2 linked regions of the Homo sapiens genome follow. The protein of the gene in region 2 purifies or fractionates together with the protein of the main gene of each other region. This does not show direct contact. Each region holds a gene or a part of one and is shown on either strand. Other genes may lie near its edges.

Region 1 (7,161 bases), on a different chromosome or scaffold from region 2:
TCTACTAAAAATACAAAAATTGGCCAAGTGTGGTGGTGCATACCTGTAATCCCAGCAGGAGGCTGAGCCAGGAGAATCGCTTGAACATGGGAGGCGAAGAGTATGGTGAACCAAGATCATGCCACTGCACTCCAGCCTGGACAACAGAGTGAGACTCTGTCTCAAATAAAAATCTAAAAATGCAAAGGTCTCTACATCTTATCAACACACCTCAAGAAAAAAAAATGAAAATCTAATTTTCCTTACGTCTTGTAATTAAGGGATGCCATAACAACAAGTAAGATATGGTAAGGATATTTTTACAATTAAAAGAGAAAAAAACAAAGTAAGTACACCCACCTCCAATTACTTACCAAACACTGCTCGGGCCATATTGCCAGTATAAATTAGCCTTCCATCTTCTGATTTGTCAGATGGCGTATTTAAGAATCGAACATATCCTTCCCAATAAACAGGGATCTATTGAAACAGGGATCATTATGGTCAACTAACCTTCTTAAATTTTTTTAAGTTTTTTTTTTTGAGACAGAGTCTTGCTCTGTCTCCCAGACTGGAGGGCAGTGGTGCGATCTCAGCTCACCATTGCAACCTCTGCTTCCCGGGTTCAAGCAATTCTCCTGCCTCAGTCTCCTGAGTAGCTGGGATTACAGGTGCCCACCACCACACCCGGCTAATTTCTGTATTTTTATTAGAGACGGGGTTTCACCATGTTGGCCAGACTGGTCTTGAACTCTTGACCTCAAGTGATCTGCCACCTTGGCCTCCCAAAGTGCTGGGATTACAGGCATGAGCCACCATGCCCAGCTTAAGTTTATTTTTAAAATTGTAATGCAGGTGCAGTGGCTCATGCCTGTAATCCCAGCACTTTGGGAGGCCGAGGGGGGCGGATCACTTGAGGTCAGGAGTTCAAGACCAGCCTGGCCAACATGGTGAAACCCCGTCTCTACTAAAAATGCAAACAATTAGCCGGGCATGGTGTCTGGCGCCTGTAATCCAGCTACTCCGGAGGCTGAGGCAGAAGAATCGCTTGAACCTGGGAGGCGGAGATTGCAGTGGTCCGAGATCACACCACTGTACTCCAACCTGGGCAACAGAGCACGACTCCGTCTCAAAAAAATAAAATAAAATTGTAATGAAAAGAACTTGTCACATGAGGTGACATAAGGAATTCTCCCAAATAATCTACAGAGTTAAAGAAATAAATTGGCTGACAGAATGGCTTGCCTTAATTCTAGTCACAAGTAGAAAACTGCAGAGCTGGAGTTTGTTAGCTTAGCATCCCAGCTCTCAGGTTTCTAGGTCTAGTGTGACCTTGAACAAGTAAAAATAGTAACAGTTTCTTCTACTCCACTGTTAATGACGACATCATTTCCATTCTATTTAAATGCAACACCTTTTCAAAAAATAAATACATTTAGCTGGTGTAATGGAACACGTCTATAGCCCCAGCTACTGGGGAGGCTGAGGTGGATCACTTGAGCCCAGGAGTTTAAGGCCAGCCTGGGCAACATGGCAAGACCCCATCTCTAAGAAATAAAATTTAATTTTACTAAAATAATTTAAGTAAAATACTCCGCAAACTCACATTATATTTAAAGTCCAGGCCTTTTACAAATACTGCTAAAATATTTATATGATAGTATTAAAGAGATCAAATCTTTCTCTAAAGACCTTGTAAATACCGTGTATCCCCTGGTCCTCTTATTTCTTGACAAGAAATAAAATTTGGCTGGGCACAGCGGCTCACGCCTGTAATCCCAACCCTTTGACAGGCCGAGGCAGGAGGATGATTTGAGGTCAGGAGTTTAAGACGAGCCTGGCCAACACGGTGAAACCCCGTCTCTACTAAAAATACAAAAAAAAAATCAGCCGGGGTGTGGTGGAGCGCGCCTGTAATCCCAACTACTGGGGAGGCTGAGGCAGGAGAATCGCTTGAACCCGGAAGGCGGAGGTTGCAGTGAGCCAAGATCACGTCACTGCACTCCAACCAGGGTGACAGAGCGAGACTTCACCTCCAAAAAAAAAGAAATAAAATTTACTTGAAATCCTACATCAAATTTCAAGGGAACAGAAGCGTTCCCCATACATCTGAAAATGAGTTTCACAGTGTATACACTTCAAAATGTAAAAGGCATGCCTAATTCCTCAATGCTGAAATGTAATTAGATTCCAATTTCCATTTTAAGCATTTCTTCCAAGTTTTAACCAGGTTTGCCAATCCTGATATTTTACAGAGTAGAATTAGAAGACAATTTATTCAGATCAAAATAAAAGAATTAACATCTGCATCCCCCTTTTCCCAGGGACCAAAGTAATTCTTAAAAGTACAGCCACCTCATAAAAGTAGAACAAGCTCAAAGTCAGGTTAACCTGGCTCTTTCGGTTCTATTTCCAGGTGCTGCATCCAATTTTTTGCAAATTAACACTTCTAAGCTTCTACTCAAGGGCAGAAAAGGAACTACATATAGTTGTCACCACAAACCCTCTGGATTTGGAACTACCATAAAAGTAAGCACTTTCCAGCCGTTCTCCTGGACTCGCGGAGGCTGAGGACCCCGGGGCCCTCGGCCTGCTACTTCTGCAAGCCCCGCAGAGGGGGCTCCTCCCGCGCTCCAGCCACGGACACCTGGGAGAGGTCGCGAAGAGCCGCTGGGGCTCCCCAGGCCCGACACGACGCCCGCCCTCCCCGCCTCACTTGGGACACCAGACCTCGGACGCCCTACCTGCGCTCGACCCGGACGCCGGAGAAGGCGCGCGGCTCCCGAAGGCCCCGTACTCCAGCCGGCTACCGGCCCCGAAGGCCCGCTGCTGGAGGACGCCCGGGAGACAGAGGCCCGGGGACCTCGGAGCGCGGCGGCCGCACACAATGCAGTCCTCCTTCCGCAGAGAGGCAGTTCGACCGCCCACGGGCTGCCCAACGCCAGAAACAGCATCACGCGGGTGACGAGCGGCTGCGGACGCCCCAGCTGCACGAGTCCACGACTGCGAGACACGGCTTCCCACCCGACTGCCGCACAAGTGGCGCATGCCCAGCCCGGGACGCCTGACTGGCAGCTGGGCTGCCTGCGCGTGCGCAGAATCTGCCGCCCGCCTGCCGCCCGCCTGCCGCCCGCCTGCCGCCCGCCTGCCGCCCGCCTGCCGCCCGCCTGCCGCCCGCCTGCCGCCTTCCCGGCCGCGCGCGTTATCCGCCAGCTGAGCTGGGAGCCCGCCGCTCTGTCCTTGGCTCAGCGGCTCCTCCTTCCTAGAATTTTACCTTCTTTATAACAGTGTGGAGGGGCAGAGGGCTGTACGAGAATGACAATGCCCAGAAGCCAGGGTTAAATATTTTTTTTTCTCGTGGACGACATCACTAAAAACTGTTTCCTTTGCGGAAAATGATTCTAGCCTGTTGGCACAGAAGAAAGAATATACGATTTGAACAAAAATGAGTGATAACTTAATTGAATCATCGGGTTGGAGGAAAATAAATGGAATTGTTCATGTAATATTGATAGGTGTTACCAGATTTGTCTTCGGAAATCATTCACATCCATATACACATTGATTCATTACTTGTTAAAGAGGTACTGAATCTATTGCCAGGACTGAGCTAGGAGCAGAGGATACAAAATACTAGATTAAACTGGGAATCCACAGTGCTTAAACAGTGGAGGAAAATACCTGAAAATTGGCTAGAATATAATGTAATACAATTGAGACACCGCAATATACAAAATGTGGCTGGCCGTGGTGGCTTACACCTGTAATCCCAGCGCTTTGGGAGGTTTAGGCAGGAAGATCTCTTGAGGCCAGGAGTTTGAGACCAGCCTGAGCAATACAGGGAGACCCCGTCTCTACAAAAAAAAAAAAAAAAAAAAAACCTAAAACAAAAATAAGCCACACATGGTAAGTGTGTGCCTGTGGTCCCAGCTACCCAGGAGGCTGACATGGTAGGATTGCTTGAGCCCAAAGTCGAGGCTTCAGTGAGCCAAGACCACACTACTGCACTCCAGCCTGGACCACAAAGTGACACCGTGTCTCAAAAAAAAGAACAAACAAATGCCACAGAAGTACAAAGAAGAACATGATTAATTTTGCCTCAGAATGTCTTCAGACTGGCTTCACATTTAGCTCAGTCTTGAAGGATGAGCATCTTAGTAATAGAAACACACTTTTGTTTACCACTGCAGAACTATACATGTTTTTGATTTGACATGTTATTTGCACCGGAGAGGAACAAATTCATAGTCTAAAATAATGTGTGGCCAGGGGCGGGAGCTCACGCCTGCAATTCCAATACTACGTGGAGGCCCAGGTGAGAGGATCACTTGATTCCAGGAGTTTGAGACCAGCCTGGGCAACAAAGTGAGACCCTGTCTCTACAAAAAATTTTTAAATTAGCTGGGCATGGTGGCACCTGCCTGTAGTCCCAGCTACTTGGGAGGCTGAGGTGGAAGGATCACTTGAGCCCAAGAGGTTGAGGCTGCAGTGAGCCCTGATTGCACCACTGCACTGAGTGACACAGCTAGACCCTGTCTCAAAAATAAAAATAAAAATAAATCAATAGAATATGATCATGTTGGCAACTCCAAATACTGTCTATTGGGGGGAGTATTCAGAAGGAGATAATGATAATACCTCTATATGGATAACTTTATTTTATAAAAAGTTAGCTTCTACTTACATTTTGTTTATTTTTATTTTAATATTTGTTTTAATAGTAGAGATGGAGTTTCACCATATAGCCCAGGTTGGTCTCAAACTCCTGAGGCTCAAGCTATCCGCCCACCTCAGCCTCCCAAAGTGCTGGAATTACAAGGGTGAGCCACTGTGCCCACCTTTTATTTTGTTTTTGAGACAGGGTCTTGCTCTGTCGCCCAGGCTGGAGTGCAGTGGCACCATCATAGCTCACTGCAGCCTTGACCTCCCAGGCTCAAGTGTTCCTCTCACTTCAGCCTCCCAAGTACCTGGGACTACAGGCCACGTCACCATGCCCAGCTAATTTTTGTATTTTTAGTGGATACAGGGTTTCCTTTTGTTGCCCAGGCTGGTCTTGAGCTCCTGGAATCAAGGGATCCTCCCGCCTGGGCCTCCCAAAGTGTCACAGAACCTGAGCTACCACACCTGGCCTATTTACATTTTAAAAACTCTTCTGTTTAGGGTAATTCACTCACAATCAATATTCACTCTATTATTTTGCTGATATATTTAAAATTTTCACATAAAAATGTTTTTCTTAACTATATTAAGAGAACTCAAATTTTTTATCTTCTGTAAAGCTGTTCCCCCTACAAATACTGTAAGTAAATGAAAATAAAAACTTTTGTTTGATCTATTTCTCAAAATTTCTAAATAGATAAAATCAGATTATAGTCTGAAAACTCTGTACCATAGATTTACATAGAATTGTTATTTATGTTAGATGGATTTTCCAGTTCCAGTAAGTTAGAGACATTTGTTAAATATAAACTAATGGGATTTTAGAATGATTTTAAGGATGTTTTTAGGCCGCGCGCAGTGGCTCACGGCTGTAATCCCAGCACTTTGGGAGGCCAAGGTGGGCGGATCACTTGTGGTCAGGAGTTTGAGACCAGCCTGGCCAACATGGTGAAACCCCGTCTTCACTAAAAACACAGAAAAAAGTCGCCCGGCGTGGTGGAGCACACCCGTAATCCCAGCTACTCAGGGGGCTGAGGCACGAGAATTGCTTGGGCCTGGGAGGTGGAGGCTGCAGTGAGCCGAGATTGCGCCACTGCACGCCAGCCTGGGAGACAGAGCGAGACACCCTCTCAATAAAAAAGAAGGAAAGAAAAGAGAAGAGAAAAGAAAAGGGGCCTACAGCCTCCTCATCTGCACCTCCATGCCTGTCCTCCCCACCAAACTCTACTTCGAGCTACCATTACAGCCAAAAAATCTTTGTTCTGATTTCTGTAAAGGCTTTAAAAAATTTATCCAAGACAATCTCCTTGATTATTGCAACTAATTATAAAAAACCAATGTCTTTTATCTACCAAATTAACTAAATTAAACAAAAAAAAAGCCTTTCTGGCAAGTCCTCAGTTCAACAAACTCTAGATAGCCTGTTATCTATTTTTTGAGCACACAAAGTGCCTCGTTGAGCACCTTGTAATGTTGTCTTGGCCCTACATACATTCTCTTCATGCCACACTCCTGGAAAACAGTAGAAGGTGAACTTTATTTAGCTGTTTCAGCCTTCCTGGAAAGGTGCCTGTATATCTTACCATAGGAAACGCGGGGGGGTGGGAAGCGGGGCGTGGAATGAGAAAGAAGTTCCCAAAAACTGAGTAACGGTTTGGCAGGCGCCTGGATTTTCTGTGCGTGAGCTCCGGATCCAGGACAGCTGAGCTAACCCAGAGGCAAAGGCAGGACCCTCGCGGGTGGAGTGGGGGACGTGGTTAGTTTTCAGTTAACATTGAATTCTACCGGGAAGAGAGGAAATGAGGCCAGCCGATTGCGCTAGTCGTTGCTGTGCTGGCTCTTCAGCACGCACAGCAACTTTTCACCAGGGACAGATGCTGCTTCATAAAGAGTACGATCTCGTTAGCAAAGAAACCGCCCTCCCACGTTTCAATCTTTCCTCAGCAGTCTCCCACCTCCAGGCGTAACCCTAAATGAGAGGTACGGACAGTCTCTGTAACCACCAAAATCTTAACACGCAGTGCGAGAAACTACAAGTCCCAGGATGCAGGGCTGCCTCGGTCCCAACGCCGACGGTATCCACCAGAGAAACTACAAATCCCAGAATGCAGTGCTCTCTCGGACTCCCGAGAGCCTCTCTAAGGATGCGTCTTTACAGCAATTGGATCAGGGTCTGCGCTGCATGCTGGGAATCCAGAAGAGCTAGACTCGGATTGGTCGAAATTTGCCGGTTGCGTTCATAGGCTGGCCTACTATAGGGGAAAAGAGTAGGGCGCTACGCCCTACCTCCAGACGGAAGTGAGCGACACACTCTGCGTCCTCGCCTCACCAGGTACGGATCTCCCGCGCGTCGCCGAAAGCGGCTCTGACCCAGCGGAAGTAATTCTTTCGACTGCCCCGGAACCCACCGGAGCAGGCAGCTGGGGGTGGGGGGGCGGCCCTGGGATAGGGGCTGTGGCAGTACGCGGGGACCCGGCTGCGGTGGCTGCGGGACTGACGAGTGAGTCTCGGGCTGGGGCGGAA
Region 2 (7,021 bases):
TCATATAATACAGACTCAGGCCCTGTGCATTTGCTATTCCCCCACACCTGAGGTCCCTCCTAGCTTCTCTCTGAACTGTGGGCTCCTTCTGCTCATTCAGATTTCAGTTCATGTGTCATCTCCTCAGAGGGGCAGTCCTTGGACCCCTCACACCCAACCCTCTATCACTCTTTCTAGTGCTCACACTATAAAATTACACTGTTTATTTATGGGTTTGTTTTTTATTGCCTGTTTCCTCTGACTAGCAGGTAAGCTGTGCAAGGGCAGGGACCTTGTACATCTTATTTACTACAAGGTCTCAGTGGCCAGTGCATGTCTGATGTATAGAAGTCACTCTAAATATTTTTTGAACAAAAGAATGAATTTTAAAAATGGGTAGGAGAATCATAGATCCCATCAATGCAAGGAAATAGCAATGGTAGTTTTCAAATTTAAGTTGATTTACTTTTAATTGCTCATTTCTTCTTGAGGGAAACTGGGGTGTTTTAAGGATGACTTCCTGATTATTGTCCTTTTTGAGGCTAATAGCTCACATAACACCCAGGACCATCATAATATCCCTCTTGGTGTTTGTGTCAGAAACAACATGGTGCTCCTGGTCAATGTCTGGGGCATCAGGGCATTTATTATGTTTTCCTAAATTGCTTCACTTTTTTCATGACTGATCTTGGCTTAAAAGAGACTTCCAGTATTTCAGCTATAACAATTCTCACCTCTCCACCTCAGTGTATATTATGTAGTAAAAATAGGTAAGTATGTTGGAGAACGTTACAAAATGGAATAATCTATTGGAATTGGGAGAAATATAAATATATTAGACACCTTGCTTAAACATCAGCATCTGTGGCTAAAGCTAACCCAAATTAGAATTTCTCTTCAGTTATTCTCCAGATTTGATGATTTCCTTATTTATTAAACAATGATAAACTGGACCCTTTTTTGCTTAACATGCTTTCTTTTTCCTCAGTTTCTATGTAGAATTATGTGCAGTTCTCAATTTTTGTTTTCAATCTGTTGTCACTGGAAATGGCAGAGTGACCCAAGACTCAACAGATGTAATAAAGTCCATATCCTCTACTGTCTATGGGCACAGTGTCACATGGTGCCAGGGGTCATAAGAAGATGGGAAGGGGGTCAGAAACCTCGCAGGATAAAAAGGGCAGGGAGAAAGGCTTCAATGAGAAGCTGATTCTTCCTGTTAATTTCATTCTTATCTGTTGTCATATGACTCTGGTATTTTGATGTGGGATGTATATGGAGAGAGGAGCTGAACATAGGAGAGAATGTGTAATGGGCCATTTTCTCTTTCCTGAATATGCCTTGCTTAGAATGTTTATTTGATTGCAGCTGCAGAGACAATCATTGTCCTAACCCCATACTGTCAAGTGGGCAACCCAACATCGTAAAACTCCAATATCATGTGAGCCAGATCTGCCTTTGTTTTCTCTTGAACCTTCTCCAGAACCCAATTGGGCCATGGCTACTTAAAAATGGAAATTCCCTAAAAATTAATGGACCCTTTGTCAAGTCTTTGCAAACTGTAATTTTTACATGAAGCATGTGCCGTGTAAGTAGACCTATACTTGCTAGGGCATTTCACTATTCCTGAGGACTGGCTGAAGTTCTTGTGGACTGACTACTGGACAACCCGGGAGCTCTGTAAAACACAGCTTGACTATATTAACTTACATCTTCAGAACACCAAGTATCTTTACGGCAGGAAATAATAAAAGAGTTTTACTATGCATTGCCAGAAAGAGTACAAGGAAGCTTGGAAACTCGGATATGTTCTGACCTCATGTTTTAGGCAGGGGCAAGACGTATCTAATCCACCTGGAGCCTTGGTTTTCTGATTTGTCATTACTACCCAAATCTCAATTTACATCTTAAGTGAAGTTCACTGGGCCCTCACAACTCCATGTCCATGCAGCTCCTCAGACTGGAAGGGCACCCTTCCCTTCACCTCTTTGTTTCCCCTGTTCCTCTGAGAGTCACCTGTGGTCCCAGTTCACCTGGGGAGCTGCTGGACTCCAGGGCTCGTCAGCACCGTACAATTCCCTTTCTCAGGACACCAAGCACACTGGATTGGGACTGCTTCCTTGGTCGTCTGGTCCCCTGGAGGCAGGGACTGGTTTTTGTTTGTTTTTTATTTTTCGTTAATTCCCCATCAGTCGTGCCTCATAGAGTACCCAACCAAAAGAAAGTATGTAGAAAGTGTTTGTTGCGTGAATGAGTAAATTTGAAAATCAGGGACCTGGCGCAGTGAATCTTTAAGACCCTTGGAGTTCTATGGTTGAATGAGTCTGAAGGAACTTTGGGGAGAAGGAATTAATGCTAAAATCTATAGGGAAAGAAGATAGGAGGAACTTTCATTAATTCTGTTCTATTCCAACACTTGGATTTGTACTATACCATCAGGGTTTAGAGCAATCGCTCCTCCTCTACAGGCTTTGCTTCCATTTTCAGAGTTTACTAGAAGCTCTTTCACCTGAGGTGCATACCAAAGCTCTTTGGGATATGGTAGAATGCCAGTCACCAGGGGCAGGGGAAGGTTTGAGGACCTCTCACTGTCCTCTTCATCTCGATGCCTCATGGACATTTGAGAGAGGTGGAGATGCAAAGGCTGGAGAGAAGAGAGTGGCACAGGGTGGGGTGAGGAGTTTCCTGCTGCCTCTCTGGCCTTTAGCCAGGGATATAAGAGGCTCCCTTTGTGTTTGACAGAATACGCATGAGTGCTGTTTAGTATCCTGCCTTCAGTCACAGAAAGAGAATGTTCAAGTTAAAAAAGACCATAGCCTAATGAAGTCTAAACTTTAAAAATTTTAATGAAGTACATCTTTTGGTTTCAAAAATAAAATTATATGCAGAACTTCAATAAACTAGAGATATAAAATGACAGTGTTGAGATTGAAAGGGGAAGGGAGGAGTTTGCTTTGCTTAGGTTTCCTCTTCCTGTCTGTGCCATCCCTAAAAGATCCAGAAGTCCACCTTTTCCTTCCCTTTAAGTGTACAGACTTAGAGCTAGGGACAGGAATGTTAAATGCCCCGGCCAAGGTGCTTCAGGCAGTCTACAGAGAACAGCCAGTGTGCTCTCCTCATAATGTCTCCAAGAGACCTGTGCTATAGTTTGAATGTCCCTTCCAAAACTCATGTTTAATCTTAATACCCAATGTGGCAGTATTGAGAGGTGGAGCCTTTGAGAGGCTATGGACTACGAAATATTGAACGATGAAGGCTCTGCCTTCATGAGTGGATTATCCCACTCATGGATTAATGGATTAAAGAGTTAACGGATTAATGGATTATCATGGAAATGTGACTTGTGGCTTTATATGAAGAATAAGAGAGACTTGAGCATAGCATGTTAGCATGTTCAGCCCCCTCACCATATTATACCCTGTACCCACTTGGGACCCTTCAGAGAGTCCCCACTAGCAAGCCAGAAAGCTTTTACCAGATGCGCCCCTTTGACCTGGGACTTCCCAGCTTTCAGAACTGTTAAGAAATAAATTTTGTTTCTTATACATTACCCTGTGTCAGGTATTCTGTTATAAGCAACACAAAACAGACTAAGACAACCCAGATCCTAGCCGAAAGCTAACTGAGAAGCAGGCAGTACTGAATTCTCTGCTCTGGACAGTAGGGCTGCATGAGGATTTTAATGTTTCCAGTATGTCATTCTAACATCTCCCCTCAAATAAAGAAAAAAAAAATTTTACAAAGAAAACCTGATAGGACTTTAAGAGAAATCCCAGATTGCAACCTTTGTACAATCAGCAACAAATTGAAAACTTTGAATATTAATTAAATTAGTTAAACTAAATGAAATTTAAGGGGTCCAGATAGTAAAGTATGTTGAATGAAAATTGTCATTCCTTAATATTTGTTTTAGGGATTGAGATTTCCATATGCTGGGTTTTCCTAAGTCAAGCAATAACAGGGCCTTTACCTGTTCCAGAAGATGGAGGGGTGATAGATCCTGGGCTGTCGTCTTCAGGCTCCGAGACAGTGACAGTGGGGACTGTGTCAGGACTTGGCTTTAGACATATATCTTGCTTCTCAGGGGTCTTCTCTTGGGTAGTGGTTTCAACAGAAGGTTCTATTTCCGTCAGTGTGATTTTGACAGGGGTGGTGATCTGAGGAGCCCTGCGCTGTTCTTCAGAGAGATCATCTATGTATGGAGCAAATGTGGATTCTTCCAATAAATGGTCCTTGATGATTTTTCCCTCCACAGGAGCTGGTTTGTCAGGTTCACGGACTCCTTCAGGTTTAATTGAGATGTCAGTGTCTTTATTCTTAAAGTCCAAGTCTTTATCTTCCAGCTCGGGGTGATGTTGTTCTTGGTGCTTCACCTCCTCGGGTCTGGTTATGTCAATGTATTTATAGGCCTCTGCTTTCATCTGGTCCAGAGGGTCTGCTAAGATCTTGTTCACTTCCGTGGACTCTGCAGGAGTCATCTCTATTCCAGAATCAGAACTAAATAAGCCACGAGACTCTATCCCAGGCACATCTGGTAAGGAGGGGCCGGGTGTACCCAGCTCCTCAGGGCTCTCTGAAATGGTGACGTGGCCATTTTCCTTCTGAAGAATTCCAGTAAAATATGTAGAATCCTCCTGAGGTGGATAGCAGATGTCAGAAATGAGAGATGTGTAACACGATCCTTCCCCATCTTTTGATGTTGTTGAGAAGGTGTGGTCCATGGCACTGGAAACACCTGCCACACCTATGAATCAAAGCAGCAGCAGACAGTGAGTGGGTGCTTGGCGTCAGCTCTCTCTCTTGTCTAACCCACCACCCACCCCTGCCTGGTGAAGACATGACATCCTTTCTCCTTAAGCCCTCGGAGTTCCCTCGGAGCTCCCTCAGAGCACCAGCATGTTAAATTTCCTAATCTCCCCGATAGTCCATACTTGTGGTATTTTTCCAGTAACAGACCCCAGAGGCTCACATAAACTGCCAGGACCAGATAAGTTGGGGACAGATCCTATAAGACTAGGAAATTTATTTTCAACGTCTACCACCTCAACACACAGTGACTTGATCTTAGTATTATTAAAAAGAAACCCTCTTTGTATCTAAAGTATTAACAGCTCTTTAAGTAGAGGTGGAAATTAGGCTACCTCAGGATTGTAACTGCAACAATAGGATAGCTGACTGGGTACAGGAGCTGCTCTTGGAAATTCAATGGCTGGGAGGAGCCTCAAAGAACCCACCTGTCCAGTCCTTTCATTCATGGACTACTGATCCATCCAGTCTCTTTTTCAAGGTCCGCAGAGAAAGGACCTCCTAGCTTTGGGCCTCATTCCAATGTCATATCACCCTAATGGTGTGCTTCCCTGTTTATTTCATCAGTTTTCCCTCTTGTTTTGTTTTCCTCCTCTTTTACTCCTCTACTGCCCATTCATTGCCATCCAGTGATATTCAAAGTCACCCACTGGCAATTCCTTCATTCCACTGGTGGTGCTAAGGGTAAGACAGGTTTCCAAGTTTGAGTCTATAGAATATTTTCACCAGGCTCTAATTCTACTAATACACCAGCCATTTTTTATATTCATTAATAGTGGGCATAGGCCAGGTGCAGTGGCTCACGCCTGTAATTCCAGCACTTTGGGAGGCCGAGGCAGGCGGATCTCCTGAGGTCGGGAGTTCGTAGACCAGCCTGACAACATGGAGAAACTCCGTCTCTACTAAAAATACAAAATTAGCCAGGCGTGTTGGCGCATGCCTGTAATCCCAGCTACTCAGGAGGCTGATGCAGGAGAATTGCTTGAACCCAGGAGGAGGTTGCGGTAAGCTGAGATTGCGCCATTGCACTCCAGCCTGGGCAACAAGAGCAAAACTCCATCTCAAAAAAAACAAAAAAATAGTGAGCATAAAAGGAAAACCCTCCACTGTTTTACTTTGCTGTAAAATTCTACCAGAAGGTATGAAAACCAACCATACCAGAGCATACATTGAGGCGTCACTATATGCTAAGCAGTGGGATTTTTAATCTAATTTTTACAATTGTACAAATTAAGTCCCACACTCTCTACATCTACATACAAACACATTACACACACACATATACACAAACACACACACAGTACGTACAATATCAAAGGTCTTAAGACACACCTGAAGAATAGACTAGAGCAATAACTCATATAAAAGTCATCAAAACAGTGGCAGTAACAGGTCAATAGCTAACATGCGAGTGCTTGCTATGTGTCAGGCATTGTTCTAAACTTTTCATTAATATCAACTCATTTCATAATCAAAGCAATCCTAGAAGGTTGGCAATATTGTTAGGCTCATTTTACAGATGAGGAAACTGAGAAACAAAGGGGTTAAATAACTCACCTAAGATCTTACAGGCAGTAAGTGGTAGAACCAGGATTCACACCCAAGTAACCTGGAAGCCAAGAAACCTCCCCTAATGCGCTTTGCCCCGATTAAGTCAGTCTGTGAGGTTTTTTTTTTTTTTTTTTCCGGGAATATTTACTCAGCATTATTACAAACGAACTTAACTTTTGTCTTTTCCTAGCTTTCTTTTTGGTTGCACAAGCTATTGTTTCTCTACGGGCAGTGGAAAAGCACAAAGCCTCTTCCCTGTTCTAGCACTTTCCTACCTCAGCGGCTTTGCACTAGCTGTTTCCTTTTCTTGGAACTCTCTTCTCCTAGATACCTATATACCTAATTCTCTCACCCCCAAGTCTTTGCTCAAATGTCGCCGTCTTAAGAAAAATGACCCTAACCCTCCATCTCAAATTGCAACTTGCCTTCCCCTCCCCACTCCTGGCAATCCTATTCGCTACCCTTCTCTGATTTTTCTTTTTCCTGTATTGCTTATCTCCTTCTTAAATACTGTATAGTTAACATATGTTTTATGCATCGATTGTCTCCTCTTGCTAGGTGAGCTCACACACACAGCATGGTAAGCTCCATAAGGGCAGGAATTTCTGACTATTTTGCTCACCAATATAGGCACCTAAAACAGGGCCTGATGAATAGTAGGTACTCAATACATATTTGCAAAATA

What was found. Proteins that work in one complex are often made in the same cells at the same time.
Region 1: the proteins of RTN1 (region 2) and TMEM70 purify together in Homo sapiens (affinity purification with mass spectrometry; 2 studies listed by BioGRID and IntAct, with this or other methods). This does not show direct contact.

What each region holds. Positions count from the first base shown.
Region 1 is NC_000008.11:73,972,054-73,979,214, reverse strand, and holds the start of TMEM70 (transmembrane protein 70, mitochondrial), read right to left. Parts: upstream 3,021-7,161; 5' UTR 2,934-3,020; coding exon 2,724-2,933; intron 460-2,723; coding exon 354-459; coding exon of another isoform or gene 346-353; exon of another isoform or gene 340-345; intron 137-339; exon of another isoform or gene 44-136; intron 1-43. UniProt on the Homo sapiens protein: Scaffold protein that participates in the c-ring assembly of mitochondrial ATP synthase (F(1)F(0) ATP synthase or complex V) by facilitating the membrane insertion and oligomer formation of the subunit c/ATP5MC1 through its interaction.
Region 2 is NC_000014.9:59,741,759-59,748,779, forward strand, and holds part of RTN1 (reticulon-1), read right to left. Parts: intron 4,724-7,021; coding exon 3,950-4,723; intron 1-3,949. UniProt on the Homo sapiens protein: Inhibits amyloid precursor protein processing, probably by blocking BACE1 activity.